Linked DNA regions of Homo sapiens. The protein of the gene in region 1 interacts with the protein of each later gene in a biochemical or structural test. Each region holds a gene or a part of one and is shown in the gene's direction. Other genes may lie near its edges.

The links. Proteins that work in one complex are often made in the same cells at the same time.
Region 2: the proteins of RIPK1 (region 1) and ANKRD13A form a complex in vitro, tested with the Homo sapiens proteins (one study listed by BioGRID).
Region 3: of the proteins of RIPK1 (region 1) and PELI1, one has a biochemical effect on the other in vitro, tested with the Homo sapiens proteins (one study listed by BioGRID).
Region 4: of the proteins of RIPK1 (region 1) and RFFL, one has a biochemical effect on the other in vitro, tested with the Homo sapiens proteins (one study listed by BioGRID).

The regions. Positions count from the first base shown.
Region 1 is NC_000006.12:3,077,639-3,083,139, forward strand, and holds part of RIPK1 (receptor-interacting serine/threonine-protein kinase 1), read left to right. Parts: intron 1-140; coding exon 141-297; intron 298-3,340; coding exon 3,341-3,478; intron 3,479-4,296; exon of another isoform or gene 4,297-5,022; intron 5,023-5,446; coding exon 5,447-5,501. UniProt on the Homo sapiens protein: Serine-threonine kinase which is a key regulator of TNF-mediated apoptosis, necroptosis and inflammatory pathways.
Region 2 is NC_000012.12:110,022,582-110,027,588, forward strand, and holds part of ANKRD13A (ankyrin repeat domain-containing protein 13A), read left to right. Parts: intron 1-1,464; coding exon 1,465-1,531; intron 1,532-3,160; coding exon 3,161-3,242; intron 3,243-5,007. UniProt on the Homo sapiens protein: Ubiquitin-binding protein that specifically recognizes and binds 'Lys-63'-linked ubiquitin. Does not bind 'Lys-48'-linked ubiquitin.
Region 3 is NC_000002.12:64,109,262-64,114,268, reverse strand, and holds part of PELI1 (E3 ubiquitin-protein ligase pellino homolog 1), read left to right. Parts: intron 1-1,596; exon of another isoform or gene 1,597-1,706; intron 1,707-5,007. UniProt on the Homo sapiens protein: E3 ubiquitin ligase catalyzing the covalent attachment of ubiquitin moieties onto substrate proteins. Involved in the TLR and IL-1 signaling pathways via interaction with the complex containing IRAK kinases and TRAF6.
Region 4 is NC_000017.11:35,053,049-35,058,055, reverse strand, and holds part of RFFL (E3 ubiquitin-protein ligase rififylin), read left to right. Parts: intron 1-3,561; exon of another isoform or gene 3,562-3,668; intron 3,669-5,007.

The DNA.
Region 1 (5,501 bases):
GCTTCTGGCCTGTGCCTGGAAGAGATCGGTACAGACCCAAGCATGACCCCAGCACGTGGGAGTGATGTGTTGGAGGTGTGCACCAGGCTCTTGAGGCGCTGGCTCTGCCAGCCTCAGCATAGCACCTTTCCTGCCCACAGGCACAACGAGGCCCTCTTGGAGGAGGCGAAGATGATGAACAGACTGAGACACAGCCGGGTGGTGAAGCTCCTGGGCGTCATCATAGAGGAAGGGAAGTACTCCCTGGTGATGGAGTACATGGAGAAGGGCAACCTGATGCACGTGCTGAAAGCCGAGGTAGAGAGGGCCCCTCCGCACGGGGATCCCCAGCGCTTGGGCCCTGGCTGTCTGTTATGGCTCCCCTTGGGGTGTTTGTTTGCAGCTCGTTAGCATCAAATTTGCAAATTGCTTGGTAGTTTGAATTTTCTTTTCCTTTTTTTATAGAGACAAGGTCTTGCTATGTTGCCCAGGCTGAACTCCAACACCTGGTCTCAAGTGATCCTCCCACCTCAGCCTCTCAAGTAGCTGGGATTACAGGCTGGATTTCCTGAAGTCAGTTTCTCCTTAAAACATCTATGCCTTGATTGGGCTCCGTGGGTCACTTCTGTAATCTCAGCACTTTTGGCAGGAGGATCACTTGAGCCTTGGTGCTCAAGACCAGCCTGGATAACACAGTGAAATCCCCTCTCTACAAAAAATAAAAGGTGCATGTGAACAGAGCAAGACCCTGTCTCTGAAAAAAAGAGAAAATCTTCCTTGCCTTTTACTGCCCTGAGAGTGGTCTCTTCATCCTCTCGATCCTGTGGACAGTCCTCCATAGTCTGTGTCTTAGGAATGTGATTGGCTGTTTACCATACCTGTCCGCTGCTCTGCAATCTACAGTTCAGAGACAAGCCCTGTCTTCATGATGCAGACATCATCTGATGTAGAGTATATGCATGATGGGATGACATTAAATATGGATTAATGAAAGGATATACACTATAAATGACCGTGAGAGCAGATAGAATATTAGTGGTTGCACTTTGATACCATTCAACAAAGTTTTATTTTAAATTAAATATAGAAATTATTGGCAACAACACTGGATAGGATTTAAAACAAAAATAAAAATTGTTTACCAAAGTCAAATGATTTGAAAACATTTTTAAAAGCTTATGTGCCTGTTAAGATGAAGGCCTTGCGCTAGTTGCTCATGAATCAATAGCTAATATGACGTAGGAGAGTAAAAGGAGGCAGATAGCTAAATAAGTGGTATGGTGTGATGGGGTTTTTTTTTTTTCTTTTGTAAGAGAACAAGGTCTCACTGTGTTGCCCAGGCTGGAGTGCAGTGGCACAATCATAGTGCACTGCAGGCTTGAACTCCTGGCCTTAAATGATCCTCTCACCTCAGCCTCCTGAGTAGCTGGGACTATGGGCATGAGCCACTGCACCCAGCTGTGTGGTGGTATTTTTTTTTTTAGAGGAGTCTCGCTCTGTCGCCCAGGCTGGAGTGCAATGGTGCAATCTCGGCTCACTGCAACCTCCACCTCCCTGGTTCAAGCAACTCTCCTGCCTCAGCCTCTTGAGTAGCTGGGATTACAGGCGCCTACCACCATGCCTGGCTATTTTTTTAATTTTTAGTAGAGACAAGTTTTCACCATGTTGGTCAGGCTGGTCTCGAACTCCTGACCTCGTGATCCGACTGCCTTGGCCTCCCGAAGTTCTGGGATTACAGGCATGAGCCACCGTTCCCAGCTGATGGTGTTTTGATAGACATACTCATTGCTGAGGGAGTACACATGAGAGGCACCCACTCAGCCTGGAATAGACAGAAAAGGCTTCCAATGTGAAGGACATGTAGACGTTTTGAAGCAGAGAATTAGAGAACAAGTGTTCTAGGCAGAGAGAATACCATGTAGAGACTGCCAAATTTGGGGAACTGTAAATTCCTGGGTTTGGCTAGAGCATAGATTGCACAGGGTATGGGGAGGGGTGGCGGGATATGGCTGCCTTTATGGCAAATACTCCCACTTTTCCACTTTCTTCTCCCACCCCACAATTGCCAAGCCAACAGACATCTCACAAAAATACCCTTGGGAAGGAGAAGAGGTGATCACTTATACGCATGGTATTATAGTTTGATCAGATTGCTCTCCACCCCAGAACTAGAGAAGATCAGCTGTTTGAAGTAAACATTTTGATTGGGAAATAAGTCTTTGGTCTCCCATCCAAGTACTAACCAGGCCCAACCCTGCTTAGCTTCTGAGATGAGAGAGAAATCATTGGGGACATGAGGCATTGTGCAAGATGAGGGAAAGTTCAGGTGCACCTGTTTGGACTCAGTCAGGGCATCAGGAGGACCTGAGAGAGAAGCAGAAAGAGAGGAGAGAGGGGGACCAACTTTGCTTACTCAGAAGTTTTTCCTAAGTCCAAAGGTATACCAAGGAAGAAGAGAAAACATCTTTTCTGCTACTTTCTGTATGGTGGTGATCAAGCTATTAACAGTGTAGCTCTGCTACGTTATGTCATAAATATGGTTTGAGGGGGAATCTCACTTCTATCATTAAAATTTTTTTCCTGTTAACCAACGACCAAAATACATATACATTTTTAGGAAACATCTTGTTTGTATACTGATTTTTTATTGTTAAGCAAAACTGTAATTTAACCACTATAATAGAAACTGGAATTGTTTCTGTTAGTATTGATGCTCACATAACAAGAATACAATTATAAGAACCAGTGACCTGAGACTCTACAGAAGCCTGAAGTATCTGCTACCAGGTCATCAAATAGATATTAATTCACTTAAGCGTAGTTTTAACATCATGTTTATCTCAGATTTTTCTATGATTGTAATCAGTGTGAACATGTTCCCTTGTATTCTTTTTTCTCTTAATGTTATTTTACACGCGACATTTGCATGGCATTGTTCATGTCCTTAATGTAAACTTAGTATGATGTCGTGTGAGTATCCCACAGAAACTGCTTGCTCGTATATTTATTCATCCATTCATTCAACAAGCATTCCAGGTACAATCCTAGGTTCTAAAGATACAGTCCTAAATAATATATATTTTTGTTCTCAAGGAGCTTAATTTTATAGTATTTTATGCATTACCAAATTATTGTGGGATTTTTGTTTTTACACTAACAAAATACAACACGAATACCCTCTGCCCCCCCCCGAATGAAATCTTTCTTGTTTCCCAGTGACAGCAGTACTGTGGTGCACCTGCTGGAAGGAAACCTGGTAACCTTCTCCTCAGGCTCAGATCCCACCACCCTTTCATGAAACAGTTGCTTTGGCCTATTTGATAACCTTTCCATTTCATAGACTTAATATCACTTGTTTTAGATGAGTACTCCGCTTTCTGTAAAAGGAAGGATAATTTTGGAAATCATTGAAGGAATGTGCTACTTACATGGAAAAGGCGTGATACACAAGGACCTGAAGCCTGAAAATATCCTTGTTGATAATGACTTCCACATTAAGGTAAACCATCATCGGTAGGCTTCCAGAAAGTTGGGTGATTTTAGTTTTAATTCTCCAATGTAAATCCATTCTCGTACATTGGAGAAGCTAAAGGAAGACCTAGCTCAGCTTATAACTGTTGATGATGGTGCCGAAAGGCTCTACCGGTGATTGAGAGGAAGGCTGCAGGCTTGATGGGATCAGGAGATAACTGTCAGGATAACTCATATCTTTTGGGGGAGGAGTGGAGTTGAATGGGGTAGATGAGAAGACCTCTTTCCTAGACTGTGTTTTTTCCTCTGTTAGAAACATTTAGAAACATTCAAGGGTTGCCCTTTTCATCCTGGAATGGGCCATTGGTGTCATAATGTTCTCCAGGAAATCTGTGTCACCAAGACTCTCCTCCTCTGGAAATGCAGGGGAATGTGAAGGTGTGTGCGGAAAATCCTTAGAGTTCAGATATGGCCTAAGAGTGAGATCAGCGGCCGGGTGCAGTGGCCCACGCCTGTTATCTCAGCACTTTGGGAGGCTGAGGTGGGCGGATCACCTGAGGTCGGGAGTTCGAGACCAGCCTGACCAACATGGAGAAACCCCATCTCTACTGAAAATACAAAATCAGCCGGGCGTGGTGGTGCATGCCTGTAATTCCAGCTACTCGGGAGGCTGGGGCAGGAGAATCGCCTGAACCGGGGAGGTGGAGGTTGTGGTGAGCCGAGATTGTGCCATCGCACTCCAGCCTGGGCAACAAGAGCGAAACTCTGCCTTAAAAAAAAAAAAAAAAAAAAAAAAAAAAAAAAAAAAAAAAAAAAATCAGCAGTGCATCAAAAACCTCTACTTTGAAATTTTGTTTTATATTTGTATTCGATTGTTTACTTCTGTCTGTATTTTAAAAATCAGTTTCCTTTGAACACATTCTTTCCATTGTCGTAAAGGGAACAAGGGAAAGGGATTTTTCTTTTGTTCATTCAAGGGCAGGATTTAGCTAGGGGGAGTGTCATATCTAATTGGCTTCTGCAGCAGGAATCCAAGCACAAGAATCCAAAAGGGGAAGCGGAAGGGGAAGCAGCCCTGGGGGAGGCACCCAGGAGCTGCTGACACAGGGGCCTCTCATCACCAGCAGGTTCTGCGTCTAGCGCTTTGTCCTAGTCTTGGACAAAGGGCTGGGAATAAAAATTCCTTATTCATAACCTATCTTCAAATTCATGACTTCCCTCTTATGTCGTGGGTTAGAATCTGTGAATTTTAGGTACTCATGTGCCACAGTTCATCCCCACATGCTTGCTTGGATTCCTGGAGGCAGAAGTGGAACTGGCACCTATATTCTCTTCTGAACTGTGCTGCCCTGTCATTTTGCCCTGCCAGCACTGTTCTTGTTCTGTGTCTGACCTTGCTATTTTTCTCTCTGCTTTTTTGTCTGTTTTTCTCCTCCTTTCCACCCTATCTCCTCTTAGGTTCAGGCTACAGCTCAAAACAAGCAACACTGCAGTCCTTATCCTCAGTGTGTCTTTGGGATCCTTGGACACTTGCATCCATGGGCCTCTGGACGCCATTTGGGGAAATAGAAGGTGTAGTATTTAGCCACTGTCTGCTGCATAAATGTGCAGAGAAGAAAATAACCATTTTCCCCCCAAGCCCTAGAAATAGTTGAAAAACATACGCAGAGTCAATGGGGAATGAGAATAAATATGTTTGGTTGTTACTGTTCTTGTCAGAAACATCTTCCGCTTTTCCCCTCCCCCTTACTGCATAAGGAATACGATACCAGAATTTCATGTGAACGTTTCCTGGGCGACATTTTACAAATGGCTGAGGAGACACACAGTTTCTATGAGTCTGTTGAGAAGTCGCTGTTTTGAACCTGCCCAGTGCAACCATTTCTGGAAAATTTACCGTACCTTATGTATAATGGATAAGCCCAAAATTGAAAGTCAGATCTGATTTGCTTACGGCCTTCACCAAACAATCCCAGTGGCTCAATGTCTTTCGCAGATCGCAGACCTCGGCCTTGCCTCCTTTAAGATGTGGAGCAAACTGAATAATGAAG
Region 2 (5,007 bases), on another chromosome or scaffold:
AAGGGTGAGGTGGAGCAGACGTAATCATCTTTCCATCCATCAGAAGAGTCTGTGCCAGAAAACAGTGACTTCCTGTGGCAAGACATCAAGTGACTTAAGCAAACAAGGAACTGAGGATTGAAGGAAAAAGGCTATCTCGATTTTCTGGTATTAATGATAAAAGGGGATTGTAGCTTATTAATCAGTTGAGTCTGGTTCCTTACCTTCTGCCCCTGTGACTGTTATCTTGTTTCTGAAGTGTCAGTTGGAGATAGCATTTGGTATAATACTTTTAGGATTCCTCTGTTTCCATCCACGGGTTGTGCTGTCCTAATTGTAGACAACTAGTAGGAAAATGGGAGCTCTGATCCCTCCTGTTCTGATGGGCTAAAATAGACACATAAACTCATTATACCATCTGGACTAATTTCATTGACCAAATCCCATTAGAAGAAAAGCAAACTATTTGGAAACAAAATGCTAATAACCGCATATGTTCTTTGTAACGTGGCTAACCTGCTGCTGTTCCCTGAGCTTCCTGCATGACATCCCAACCACTCAGTGGTCAGAGCAGAAGTCAGGCTGTTGCCGTAGCCAGGGCCAAGAGGAGCTGGGATGTGATGTCCTAGACAAAGGGTAGGGCTGGTCAGGGATCCCCTGTGAGAGGGAGCGTTTCCCAGGGCAAGCTGCTTTGAAAAAGAATCAGAGCCTCCTGGCTGCTTTTGGTTCCTAAATACATTTTTTTTCAGGAGTATGTTGAGTTGAATAACTGAGATTTTGGGCATATTACCAATGCTGCATCTGCCACTGGAATGCTGGGCTACTTTAAAAGGAGTTCCACAGAGATGGAATTAACAGCTGGGCTAAAAAAATCTGTTTTTCACATCCTTTGCCCTGCTGCACCAAACCTGCCCAAACATGTGACTCAGCTATTTTGCAGACCTAATGGCATCTCCAAGCAGCTCACCACAGTGATGAGTTCCTGGCCCACCTGCTCTTTTGTAAGGAGCAGGATGGTCTGTGCCTCATTGTTCTAAGAATTCCTCGAGTGAGATGTGGCTACTTGTGGAGATCCCACCATTGACATGCATGTCCCCAGTTAAGATGACCCAGATAAATGCTCTGACCTGGTTACCACCTTGTGGCAAGCCCTTGGATGCTGGTCATCTTCAGTCACTTCTTTGGGACTGCTGTCCAATAAATGTCACCACCTTTGTCCTCAATGCTGGCAGTTTTGTAAAGAAGCCAAGATTGGAGGCTTTCTATGCCTGGGGTGAGGCAAATTGATTAATAACTGTGGGAGGAGGGTGGAGGGTGCATAAGCCATCTGTCATTGCTAACCGCCTCCTGTGGACAATAGGACCATGATTTCCAAGTGTCCTTCACTAACTTAAGCTGGGGGGGAAAAAAACTATAAAGGCTACAGATATAAATCTGAATGGCATATTGTACATGTAGAAATTTGTGGTGTTCACTTTTTATCAGAACTAAATCCGGATTCTGGGGCTGGAGGACAGATAAAGCAGAAGTTGTTAATGGTTACGAAGCAAAGGTAAAAGGAAACTCTTAAAATAAGATTTAATATAGCTATTTAGCTTCTATGCAAATGAGGAATCTGTTCCCATTTTTTTCATGCATCTGTGCCATGGAGATGCTCTGGGGAATGAGAACTGTCTAATGTGTCTCTCACTTGGATGTTTGATTTTGTCTTATTTGACTTTCAGAAAATGGGATAGCATGCCCTGAGGAGGTCTGTAGCTATGCTAAAGAGAAACAATATGGTAGAGAAATGAGTACAGGTACCAGTTGTTCTGGTAGGAATGACAAGCTAGTCATTCCCTTAATTATTTAAAAAAAAAAAAGGAAGAGGAAGGATTAGACTTCACATGTGTTCAAATGTTGTGTAGTAGCTTTTGAGTCTCTTTTTTGTTAAATCAGCTTAATTGTAATCAGCAGGCGCACAGCCCATTTGCATGACATCAGTGCATTTAAAACATAGTTGTAATAGTGGAGACGATTGTTGATCCAGTCATCTGGCATTTTGTCAGCTGGAAAGCTGTTTCCTGGCCTTTCAGTCCCTCAGTACAACAGGGATTGATGGCTTTTGGTGTTGGAGCCCAGTGCTGCAGGGTCCTCTGGTGGCCTCTGAGTGAGCAAAGAAAGGCTTACGTCATGCTCAGCAAGATACATTTAGAAGCACTTGTCATAGTGCTGAGTGTGTTTTCTGCAGCTTTGAATGTTGGGGCTCCTCACGTGGCATATAGAGAGAATTCTTTGTTAACTGTTATGTTTGATTTTCTAGACCACCATATTCCCCAGTTATCCTTGATAACAGAGCATTTGCTCTGGCAGTTACAATAATTTTTGTCAGTGCACAGAATGCCTTTTAAATAGTGACTTGCTGGTTTTCTCTACAGCTCATAAGTCTATAGAGAACCTTGTGTTCATACCTTTCTCTTCTGCCCAGCAGATGGCTGTCTGAGTCATACTAGTATTACAAGACTACCAGCGGAGGCTGGGTGCAGTGGCTCACGCCTGTAATCCCAGCACTTTGGGAGGCCCAAGTAGGCAGATCACTTGAGGCCAGGATTTTGAGACCAGCCTGGCCAACATGGTGAAACCCCGTCTCTACTAAAAATACGAAAATTAACCAGTCATAGTAGCACATGCCTGTAATCCCAGCTACTCTGGAGGCTGAGGCACGAGAATCGCTTGAACCCAGGAGGCGGAGGCTGCAGTGAGCAGAGATCACGCCACTGCACTCCAGCCTGGGCAACAGAGGGAGACTCTGTCTCAAAAAAAAAAAAAAAAAAAATTACCAACAGAAGTACAGGATCCTGGTTTGGGTACCTTAGTTTAATAGAAACCCAGGTGGAAACCTAGATTGCAGGGCATTTGTTTGAGACTATTTAGCCACAGCAGGGCAAGCAGGAAGATGCAGCCTGTCACTGCTAACTCCTTAGTATTAAAACTGTCAAACATGGGAGGTAACTGCTGATGCATTTTTCAGTTGATAGTTTATATACTTTCTCTGAAGGATCCTAATGATAGTTAACCATTTCTCATTTTTATTTTGCTGGATTGTTTTCTGTTTTTTGCTTCAGCATTCTTGCTTTTGCTGTGCTTACTTTTGGAGTTTTGATTCCCTGTGTCACTGTTTTCTTTCGCATACACCTCTCAGGTTTACACAGTAAACAATGTGAATGTGATCACCAAAATACGCACAGAACATCTGACCGAGGAGGAAAAAAAGAGATATAAAGGTAATCACCACCACCCTCCCACCTCCTGTTTTGTTGTTATTTTTTAAGCCTAGAGGGAACTCTTTGTTGGCTCTGTTAAGTTTAGGGTTAATGTGATTGGGTTGTGTTAAGCCTAACCCTAACTTCTTCTCTCTCTCTCTCTTTTTTTTTTTTTTTGAGGCAAAGTCTCGCCCTGTCACCCAGGCTGGAGTGCAGTGGCACGACCTTGGCTCACTGCAACCTCTGCCTCCTGGGTTCAAGTGATTCTCCTGCCTCAGCCTCCTGAGTAGCTGGGATTACAAGCACCCACCACCACGCCCGGCTAATTTTTTGTATTTTCAGTAGAGACGGGGTTTCACCATGTTGGCCAGGCTGGTCTCGAACTCCTGACATCAGGTGATCCTCACCCACCTCGGCCTCCGAAAGTGCTGAGATTACAGGCGTGAGCCACCGTGCCTGGCCCCTAACTTCTTTTTTATAAAAATTTCTGGCCAGGCACGGTGGCTCATGCTTGTAATCCCAACACTTTGGGAGGCCAATGTGGGCGAGTCACCTGAGGTCGGGAATTCAAGACCAGCCTGACCAACATGGAGAAACCCCATCTGTGCTAAAAAAAAATACAAAATTAGCTGGGTGTGGTGGCCCATGGCTGTAATCCCAGCTACTCAGGAGGCTGAGGCAGGAGAATCACTTGAACCTGGCAGGCGGAGGTTTTGGTGAGCTGAGATCGTGCCATTGCACTCCAGCCTGGACAACAAGAGTGAAACTCCATCTCAAAAAAAAAAAAAAAATTTCCTGGCTGAGCACGGTGGCTCACACCTGTAATCCCAACACTTTGGGAGGCCAAGGTGGGCAGATCACTTGAGGCCAGGAGTTTGAGACCAGCCTGGCCAATATGGTGAAACCCTATCTTTACTAAAAATACAAAAATTAACCAGGCGTGGTGGCGCACTCCTGTAGTCTCAGCTACTGGGGAGGCTGAGGCAGGAGAATCGCTTGAACCCCAGAGGTGGAGGTTGCTGTGAGCCAAGATTGTCCCACTGCACTCCAGCCTGGGTGACAGAGCTAGACTCTGTCTCAAAAAAAAGAAAAAGGAAAGAAAATTTCCTTAGTCTGACTCATTCTTGGAGGTGTTTCCCCATAGTTGGCCTCAGCTGTAATTAAAGCTATTCGTGAGGGCTTGTTTATGTGTTATCAAGAACAATTGTTGAATTCAGCCAAAAAAGGAGATAAGGACATTTGAGAATATTTATCATTGGAATGAGTGATTTAGTCCAAACTATTGTGATGAAAGATTTAGACAGAACTTGGGGTCCAAGCAAAAACATTGCATGTGGTTGCCACATCCCAGCCCCATCCCAGCCCCACCAGTTCTATGGCCTTGTGAAATTACTTCTGCTCTGTGCCTTAGTTCCTCAGCAGTGAAATGCAGGTGATACCCAACCTTCCTTAGAGTTATTGAGAGGATTAGATGAGTTACGACGTGGAAGCCTTTAGAATGGCGCCTGCAGTATGTGGTAAGCATGCAGTAATTGTTCACCAGCACCACCACCACCATTGCCATTACTCCACTTTGACAGATGAGGGAACTGAGGCCCAGAACACATGGGTAGCGAGTGGCCAAGGTGGGGTTGGAATCCAGGTCTGGCTCACTCCAAAATCCAGACTCTTCCCATTATTCTGCTTTAATTCTTACAACTGTTTATCTAGTTTAGAGATCCTCATGAAAAGCACCCTATAAAGGATAAATTAGTTTATGGTTATTGTGAATGATTTGATCAGCCAG
Region 3 (5,007 bases), on another chromosome or scaffold:
AAACATACTAAAGCAGTTCTTTCTGTTTGAGTCATCCTTTTGAAATCAGCCACAAGGAAACTCTAGTATAGATGGAAATCTGTTTTATCTGAGATAATATATGCAGTCCACATTGTTTTTCATCATAAAAAAATGTTATAACATTTTCATGTTTTAAAACATTTTCCTTTTTTTCTCAGTACCCCATTATGCCTACCCACTTGCCCACTAAAATAGAAGTGCTCAGAAGATATGTAAACAATCTGCATAAGATTTGTTTTGTCCCTTGCTTAGTATTTGTTTTGCTTTTTTTTTTAGGGCAGGAATTTTGTACTTGTGTTTAGTAGGTAGTAAGCAAAAGGCTGTGTGTGATGTAAATAATGAAAGAAAACATTTGTTAGGTTGAGAGACAAAGATTGATTTCTCAGTTTTTCTTCTTTAGGTGAAACTGACAGATATTATACAAAGTCTTTCCTTTGGGAAGACTTGATATGAAAATAATTGTATTTCACTGGCCCTTAAAAAGGAAATGATTAGAATGTTTAACAGTCAAATTAATAATACTATTCCTAATAAATACATATTTTATGAGTAACTTTTCATGTTCTCCCAGCCCACAAAGAAAATAACACTATTCCAGAATATGTTTATTTTAAAATTTTTTTTTAACTCTGGAAGTTTAGTTCCTGCTAATGAGAGCAACATGCTTTCGAGTATCAAGCAAAGTTTCAAAGTAATAGATAAAATAGAAGACAGTTTTATTAGGAAGATTTTCTTTAGCATTTCTTCTAGTCTTGAGTAGAATTAATGGTGCTATTTCATGTTCTTGGTGCTAGATAACATTGGGATAGGGCTGAATACATGAGGTCAAACTAACTTAATTGAAGACCAACAAATGAAGCCAGTAATCGAGACATTCGGATGTTTTTTATGTACATACTCATTTAAAGTTCTCAAGTACATGACTTCAGGAATTTTTTTTTTTTTTTCTTTTTTTTTGAGACAGAGTTTCTCTCCGTCACCCAGGCTGGAGGATCACAGCTCACTGTAGCCTCAAACTCCTGGGCACAAGTGATCCTCCCACCTCAGCTTTCTGAGTAGCTGGGGCTATAGGTGCATGCCATGACATTTGGCTAATGTTTTCTGTTTTTACTTTTTTTTTTTTAAATCTTTTGTAGAGACGGGAGTCTTACTATGTTGCGCAGGCTGGTCTCAAACTCCTGGCCTCAAGTGATCCTCTCACCTTGGCCTCCCAAAGTGCTGGGATTACGGGCATGAGCCACCATGCCCAGCCTAGGAATTCATTTTGAAGAATTCTTTTACTCAGATTTTAAAATATAGAGAGAATATATAAAGACAGTGAGTAGGAAAGCATTGTCTAGGTACTGGTCTTTGTTAAAGAGTATAAACCTTTGGGAAGATCATGAATCTTTCTTCAGAGAACACATAAAAAAAAAAGTTCCAGGAAGAATAGCTGTCACAGCATTTTATTTGCAGTTTAATAAGGCCAGTTGTATATTGATTGATTATATGCCATTTTTAAATTTTGAAAACTATCTTGGGTCATTTATGTATATAAATAACTGGTACTACAAAAGTGTTTTATTTTGGGTTTAGATTATCAAATACAGAAGTAGAAGCCAAGATTGAATGTGTTCCTGTGATTGAAACTTTGATGTCACTGATAAAATATCCCCAGATAAGGCCTTCTAAGAGATCTAAGCAGAGTAAGAATATGTCTGATTGGAAATATATTGTTTTTCTTGGCTAATTTGACCAAGGGCTCTAGAAATTATATGGAGGGTATATGCCAGCCGTACTCTTGTTTTTTAGTTTCTTGTCTAAGCAAAAAAATTGTTCTTTTGCTATAGACGCAATAGAACTAAATCTATAGTGTTATGCACGTTACTTGTAAATTCTTATGTCAGGACCAAATGGTCGCTTATATTTTTTCCAGCTCCCAAATTCCCTTTATTCCACTTTAGTCCCTTCATTTTCAGAGATGAGGAAACAGATTGCTTTGTTCAAAGACAGCTAGAACTAGAACACAGGCTAATACTTGCTAGCCATGTGATATACTAATGTCAGCCAAATACGGGCATTTACACTTTCAGATGTTTGCCATATCTGTGCACTTACTAATTCTATTTAATACAATTTAAATTGACTCCTTTAAATAAGCTTATTTTAAAGGAAATTTTTTGCTACTATAAATAGAAAACCATTATATCCTTTAAATAGTAACTCTAAATAGGAATTCAAAACAAAGCAACGTTATTAAAATTTAATTTAAAATTAATTTAAATTTAATTGTTATTAAATTTTTAATTATTGCTGTTCTTCGTCAGAAATGTGTCAAAGCATTGTTTTCATGTTTGATGTCAGTTCCTTAATTGTCTAAACAGAAAAAGCACAGCTAATGCCTCTAGTTAAGCTTCTGTATAACTTTTTTAAATGAAATGCTTCTTAGAGGGGAAATGAGAGGGCATGAATACATGTTTATATACTAAAGTATGATTTCATGTATATCAGAAGATCTTATTATATGGAACCAAAATTATTCTTTGGTTGATTTAATTGTTCTTGAAACTTCAGTTTTTACCTTGAAGGTTTTAGTTAGCTTAGCATAAGTTTATTTTTCTAAATAAGGAATCTGATTGCCTCACAACTCAGATGTATCACAGTTATGGTGAAATAGCAATATATTGGTTTCTGTAACCTTTTAAATACCGTAATGAATTAAAATCTCTTCAGCAAAAGCAAATATATCTAGGGTGACGAGAGGTGTTTTTAGTGTATTTGAATGATGGAAATGTTTTTCTTAAAATATTTCTGAAGCATTTTTTAAAATAATTTTTTGAATTTATTGATGATAGTAGTTGTGTGTTAGTGTGAATGACTGGTCTAAATGTGTATGTCACTTCCAAGGGATTAGTAGGGGTCAGAATGATTTGTTTTATTCATTGACTTTTCCTTTGACGTGTTCTTATTCATTGGGCTACATACATTCCCTGTTGCCTTCTCACCAAAAGTGCCACTACACAGGCTGTATTTCATTGTACTGTAGAAAAAGACAAGTAGACCTTTTTCATTCATGAGATTCCTATGAAATCTGTTGGTGGAGGTATAAAATGAGGAGACTTTTATGGGCTAGCTAGTAGGAGTTTTGCTGTGAAACCTTTGTAACAGGTCTATCAGGAACTAGGGAGAGAAATAAATGCAGGAAATACTTGATCCCATTAAACTGAGGATGAAAAAGACATGATAATATTTTGGGGATTATTTATTGTGTGATTTTCCGGCTGATCAGAAGTGTTAATTTTTTGTTATACTTGTGTCAAATACATATATATATATATATTTTGAAATGGAGTCTTGCTCTGTCACCCAGGCTGGAGTGCAGTGGTGCGATCTGGGTTCACTGCAACCTCTGCCTCCAGGTTCAAGTGATCCTCCTGCCTCAGCCTCCCGAGTAGCTAGGACTACAGGCACGTGCCACCACGCCCTGCTAATTTTTGTATTCTTAGTGGAGATGGGGTTTCACCATGTTGGCCAGGCTGGTCTTGAACTCCTGACCTCAAGTGATCTTCCCACCTTGGCCTTTCTGAACTATTTCCTTTACACACATTTAGAACTACATCTAACTGTATTATAGTTTTCACTTTCACCATCAGACAAAATTCAGAAGATTCAAGAGAAGGAAAGTCGATTGTATTTACTCATATTTTTGCTACCGTGTTTTTACATCTCATATTTTAAGGTTCTTTTATTTATTTATTTTCTGTTTAGTTAATTTCCTCTAGCCATTCTTTATTTATAGTGGGTCTGCTGGTAACAAATTCTCTCAATTTTTCCTCGTCTGAGAATGTCTTGACTTCCCTTCCATTTTTGTCAGCACCTGAAAAATACTATGCCACTATCTTCTGGGTTCTGTGGTTTCTGATGAGAACTCCACTGTCAGTCTAATTGTCGTTATAAATGCAGTGTTCTCTCTCTCTCTCTGCTTCCAGGATATTTTTTCTTTTTTTTTTTTTTTTTTTTTCTTGAGACGGAGTCTCACTCTGTCGCCCAGGCTGGAGTGCAGTGGCGCAATTTTGGCTCACTGCAAGCTCTGCCTCCCGGGTTCAAGCGATTACTCCCACTTTAGCCTCCCAAGTAGCTAGGACTACAAGGCACACCACCATGCCTGGCTAATTTTTGTATTTTTAGTAGAGACGGGGTTTCACCATGTTGCCCAGGCTGGTCTCGAACTCCTGACATCAAGTGATCTTCCCGCCTCCGCTTCCCAAAGTGCTGGAATTACAGGCGTGAGCCACTGCTCCCAGCCTCTTTATTTTTTCAGCTTTACTCTTTCTTCTGTCTTTTTGACATGTGTGTCCAGTGACACACGTGTTAGATTTTGCTATAGTCTCACGCACGGGTCTATAAGGCTCTGTTTTTTGTTTCATTTTGTTTTTCCTATTTTCTCTCTATTCAGATCGAGTAATTTCCACTGTTCAGTTTTATCATAGCTGCTTTTAAATCTTTGTCAGGTAATTCTGTCATCTAAGTTTTGGCACCTATTGATTATCTTTTGCATTGTTTTTGTTTTTGTTTCTGTTTTTGTTTTGAGATGGAGTCTTGCTCTGTTGCCCAGGTTGGAGTGCAGTGGCACTGATCTCGGCTCACTGCAACCTCCTCCTCCCGGGTTCAAGTGGTTCTCCTGCCTCAACCTCCTTAGTAGCTGGGATTACAGGCATGTGCCACCACGCCCGGCTAATTTTGTATTTTTAGTAGAGACCAGGTTTATCCATGTTGGTCAGGCTGGTCTCAAACTCCCAACCTCAAGTGATCCGCCTGCCTCGACCTCCCAAAGTGCTGGGATTACAGGCGTGAACCACTGCACCCAGCCTATCTTTTGCATTGTTTTAAATCTTGTTCTTGCTAGGATGAATGATTTTCTGTTAAAACTAGATATTTTCATATTATGTTCCTAGGCTCTGGATATTATCTAAACCTTCTGTTTCCACTGGCTTTTATTGACACTGC
Region 4 (5,007 bases), on another chromosome or scaffold:
CTTGATGCCTCTCATTTTTTTCTCATGTTTTCTGGCATTTTTCCTTCATTACTTTTTTTTTAGTTCATAATTCAATATTTATATGATTGTTTGATGTATAATAGACAAAAATACATCTGCTTTGCTTTCGAGTATCTAACATAGTGTCTGCCTCATAAAAGGCACTCAGTAAGTACTTGTTGAATGAATAAGTGGTTGATTGAATGCATGATTGAATGAAGTGATATTTGAATTTAGCTTTAAAGGTGATTGGAATTTTGGACAGGTAGAGCAAATGAATGGGAAATTTATTGTTCTGAAGTGGAAACTGGATCATATTGCTCATGTAATTTCAGAAAACTGGAGAAACTGGTTTGGGAAAATGGAAGAGTTGGTTTTATATCTAGTATGCTAAGTTTGAGGTATGGAAATTTAGCAGGCATTTAGAAATGAAGCACTGATCTGAAGGGTGAGATTGATTCCAGATATTCACTTTTGGGAGTTACCTGACTGGAGAATGTGAAATCTGTTCCTTTCACAAATACCTGGTAAGCTCCTACTGTGTGCCAGACAGCTATGTTATAGGGAAGGTGAACTGCAGTCTGAGAAGGAGCCAGTCTTGTGAAAAGAGCTAGGGAGAATGTTTCAGCCAGAAAAGGAACCCAAGTTTGTAGGCCCTGGGGCAATAAATAATTTATAATTTTTGAGGAATTGAAGGAAGGTGACCGAAGGACAGAGCAAGGTGAGTGAAGTGGGAGAGCTGCATGAGGTAAAGTGGAAAAGGCAAGCAGAGCCCACATCACATGGGGACTTTGTGGGCTAGATAGTGAGTCTAGCCTTCACTCAAAAGTGTGGTGGGGCTGGGCATGGTGGCTCACACCTGTAATCCTAGCACTTTGGGAGGCTGAGGCAGGTGGATCACCTGAGGTCAGGAGTTTGAGACCAGCCTGGTCAACGTGGTGAAACCCCATCTCTACTAAAAATATAAAAAATTTTAGCCAGGCATGGTGGCTTATGCCTGTAATCCGTGCTACTCGGGAGGCTGAGGCAGGAGAATTGTTGGAACCCGGGAGGTGGATGTTGCAGTGAGCCGAGGTTGCACCACTGTACTCCAGCCTGGGTAACAAAAGTGAAAACTCTGTCTCAAAAAAAAAGAAAAAGAAAAAAAAAAAGGGTGGTGGGACACCATTGAAGGCTTAAAACAGAAAGTGACAAGCAAAGATTCTTTTTCTAAATAAAAGGTTACCCTGGCTACTCTGTAGAGAATAGAGAGTCACAAAGAAGGGACCAGTAAGGAAGTGTTTGTCTCCCTTCTTGAGAAGGATCATCGCAGATAGGGCAGGATATGGCAGTGGACATAGAACGGGATAGTTGCAGGATGCATTTAAAAAGTAGAACCAGGCTGGGCATGGTGGCTCACGCCTGTAATCCCAGCACTTTGGGAGGCTGAAGTGGGCAGATCACCTGAGGTCAGGAGTTTGAGACCAGCCTGACCAACATGGAGAAATCCCGTCTCTACTAAAAATACAAAATTAGCCGGGCGTGGTGGTGCATGCCTGTAATCCCAGCTACTCAGAAGGCTGAGGCAGGAGAATCATTTGAACCCAGGAGGCGGAGGTTGTGGTGAGCCGAGATCATGCCACTGCATTCCAGCCTGGGCAACAGAGCAAAACTTTGTCTCAAAAAAAAAAAAAAAAAAAAGTAGAAGTAAAATTCACTAGAGAAGGAAAGGAAGAAGGAAGAGTATGGAGTACAGAACCCTAGGGCCTATGTAGGGGGCAAAAGAAGGAACCAGGGAAGGAAAATAAGGGAGCAAGAGTGGTCATTGATGTCAAAGGTAAGTCAGGCTACCACGCTTGCAGTGGGAGCCAGTGTGGGAGAAGGAGTCTGTAAGGGGAATTCAAGTGTATCCAGAGTAAGTGTGCTGTCTGATGTGTGGCAAGTCAATACCCAAGACCTGGGGGCGGGGTTTATTTGTTGGGCTGCAGAATGAGGAGATGAGAGGGAACTGCAAATCCGTCCTCCTGAGGAGTTTGGAGCTAGGGTTTTTAAGGATTTTGGAGTGGGCTGGAATGTGGAGATTGTTGGGTGGTCAGAGAGAGAAAGGTGAAGTAATGGGACCCGGAGATGAAAAAACTGTATTATGCTGATTTTATTTCTCTCTGAGGGTCTTCAAACTGGTTGGCATCAGCTGTTTTACCAGAATTTGGGATCTGAAAAATATCTCAAGCAATTCTTAAAAAAAAAGCCTTATGCTTCTAATGTCAGAGATACTATCTTTAGAAACAATAGGGATGCAAATGGTCAGTATCTAGCGCTGTGTGACTTTCAGTTACAAGGAAATGTGTCAAAATCCAGCCTGATTAATGTTTTTTTTTTGTTTGTTTGTTTGTTTGTTTTTTTTTGAGATGGAGTTTTGCTCTTGTGGCCCAGGCTGGAGTGCAATGGCATGATCTCGGCTCACTGCAACCTCTGCCTCCTGGGTTCAAGTGATTCTCCTGCCTCAGCCTCCTGAGTAGCTAGACTACAGGTGTGTGCCACCACACCTGGCTAATTTTGTATTTTTAGTAGAGATGGGTTTTCACCGTTTTGGCCAGGCTGGTCTCAAACTCCTGACCTCAGGTGATCCGCCCACCTTGGCCTCCCAAAGTGCTGGGATTACAGGTGAGCCATCGCACCTGGCCTAATGCTTAATTAAAGTTATATTTCTGTCCATAGTTCTTGGTAACCCTCTGAAGACAGCTTCATAATGAAGAATTTGGGTAGGTTTTGGGTGCATGGGGCTTCAGGGAGTCATGAAGGTTGAGGACATAGGAAAGAATCACACATTTATCCATCAGAAGATCATTGGTGACCATTGGCCGGGCGCTGTGGCTCACGCCTGTAATCCCAGCACTTTGGGAGGCCGAGGCAAGTGGATCACGAGGTCAGGAGATCGAGACCATCTTGGCTAACACGGTGAAACCCCGTGTCTACTAAAAATACAAAAAAATTGGCCAGGCGTGCTGGTGGGCACCCGTAGTCCCAGCTACTCAGGAGGCTGAGGCAGGAGAATGGCGTGAACCCGGGAGGTGGAGCTTGCAGTGAGCCAAAATCGCGCCACTGCACTCCAGCCTGGGCAACAAAGCAAGACTCAATCTCAAAAAAAAAAAAAAAGCTGTTGGATCGGTGTTTACTAAGCACCTACTCTAAGCCTGTCACTGTGTTAGTGTTAAGGATTTGTGTGAATGACCTCTTTTAGGTACTTCATTTTACAGATGAGAAAAATGACGCTTAGGGAATTAATCACCTTAACAGGTCACACAGAAAGAAGACTATGAGTTCTGTCTGACCCAGGCCCCATGCTCCTAAACCTTGCATGACACTGCTCTTTGGAAAGCCCTATCAGGACATCAGCTAGAGAGGAATGAAAGGTTTTTAGAGCCCAGTGATGGCTTACCCCAGCTGTATGAATTTGTTAGCAACCCAGTTAAATAAAGTCTTCTGATTTTTCTATAGTAATCTGGCAGTTTAGGAATGGAGAGGTGGGGGAGGGAGGGGAAGATAAAAGATAGAGTAAGAGTTCAGTAAATTAGAAAGGGGATTATTTTGTTGTTCATAAGTGTAATGATTGGATTTTCATGCACATGTATGAGATGTGCCTCCATCAAGCCTTGTTACTACAAAGTCAGTGCATTACCCATCTGATGTGGGAAAAATAAATCAGAAAGAGGCCTCAGCTTGTGGGAATGGTGGAATGCAATGGCTTGTGTTGTTAAGCAAAATTGTGTTTTACAGTAAATATTTATTGTGGTTCTTTTGATGCAAGTTATATTGGGATATGGAGGAAAATGCAAAAATGGATAAGATGGTGTATTTGACCTCTACACGGTTAGAGAGGAAGGTAAAGTGCTTCACTATAGTGCTTGATTGAAGGGTATGACAGGGGTGGAAGGTGGAGAAGTATGGGAAAGTATTATACAAGTTAGCTTGTAGAGCGAGGGTGGCATTAGGTAGGGCTGGCCAGGGTGGTGCCAATCTAGCTTCTCAGGATGACCCCTCAGGATTTTGGTCACTGTGTCGTCAGTCTAGTCTTGGGTCACAAAATGTATTTTGTGGAGAACCTGGAAATAATTAGTCTTGAAGACAGGATTGTATTCAGACTTGAGTGATTGAGCTCAGAATGGAATGCCAATTTATTATTTTAGAATGAAGGATTCCTTTTCCGTTAACGGGATTCTGGAATTTGTTAGGATAATTGCTTTTCAATATCAAGAGATCTGGCAATCAAATTTAATAATATCAAGCTTGCTTGGTGAGCATGGATTTATAAGATAGAATGGTTTGTGGGGGAGAATATAGTTACAAAAAAGATTATTGTTTCCCATAATGCCTGGTATTGTATTAAGTACTTTGCATACAGTAGGGCATTTCATTGTCCCAGTGATCCTCCTGCAAAGTAGGTACAATTATCTTCAATTTACAAATGAGGAAACCAAGCTCTCTTCAAGCTGATAAGATGCTGAACTGAGATTTGAACCAAGTCCCTCTGCCCCTAAGAGCCCCTACCCCTAGCTGCTACTATATGCTGTACCCATCTAAGCTTTGTGAAATAACCTTGTTCCACTGCAGAGAAGATGTTGTGTCACCTATCTCTAGTATTTCTTGGCTTTGGGCAGTTCTGGAGTCAAAATGCCCCTCCCTGTTTTTTCTAGATTTTTCCAGATTTCTTTGTTAACCAGTCTTAGATGTGGTCACATTCTTTGTTTAAATACCCGTGTATTAATATAGTCATCCAAGCCTTTTTGTCCTCTTCTTGCTTTTGGTTTGGAAGATACTCTGTCTCTTTGGAGGAACTTTACATATCTGTGCACATTGATTTTGTGTTGATTTTATTATCTTAATTTTATGGGTTAAGTTTTTGAGTTTCTTCCAGCTCCTAGTCCATCAACTCCTTCCTGTCCCCTTCCTCTTCCACTAGACTTAAATTCAGATACTAATGCCAATTTCTGAATACTCAGTCTGGCTCCAGTCCACCTATCCAATTTA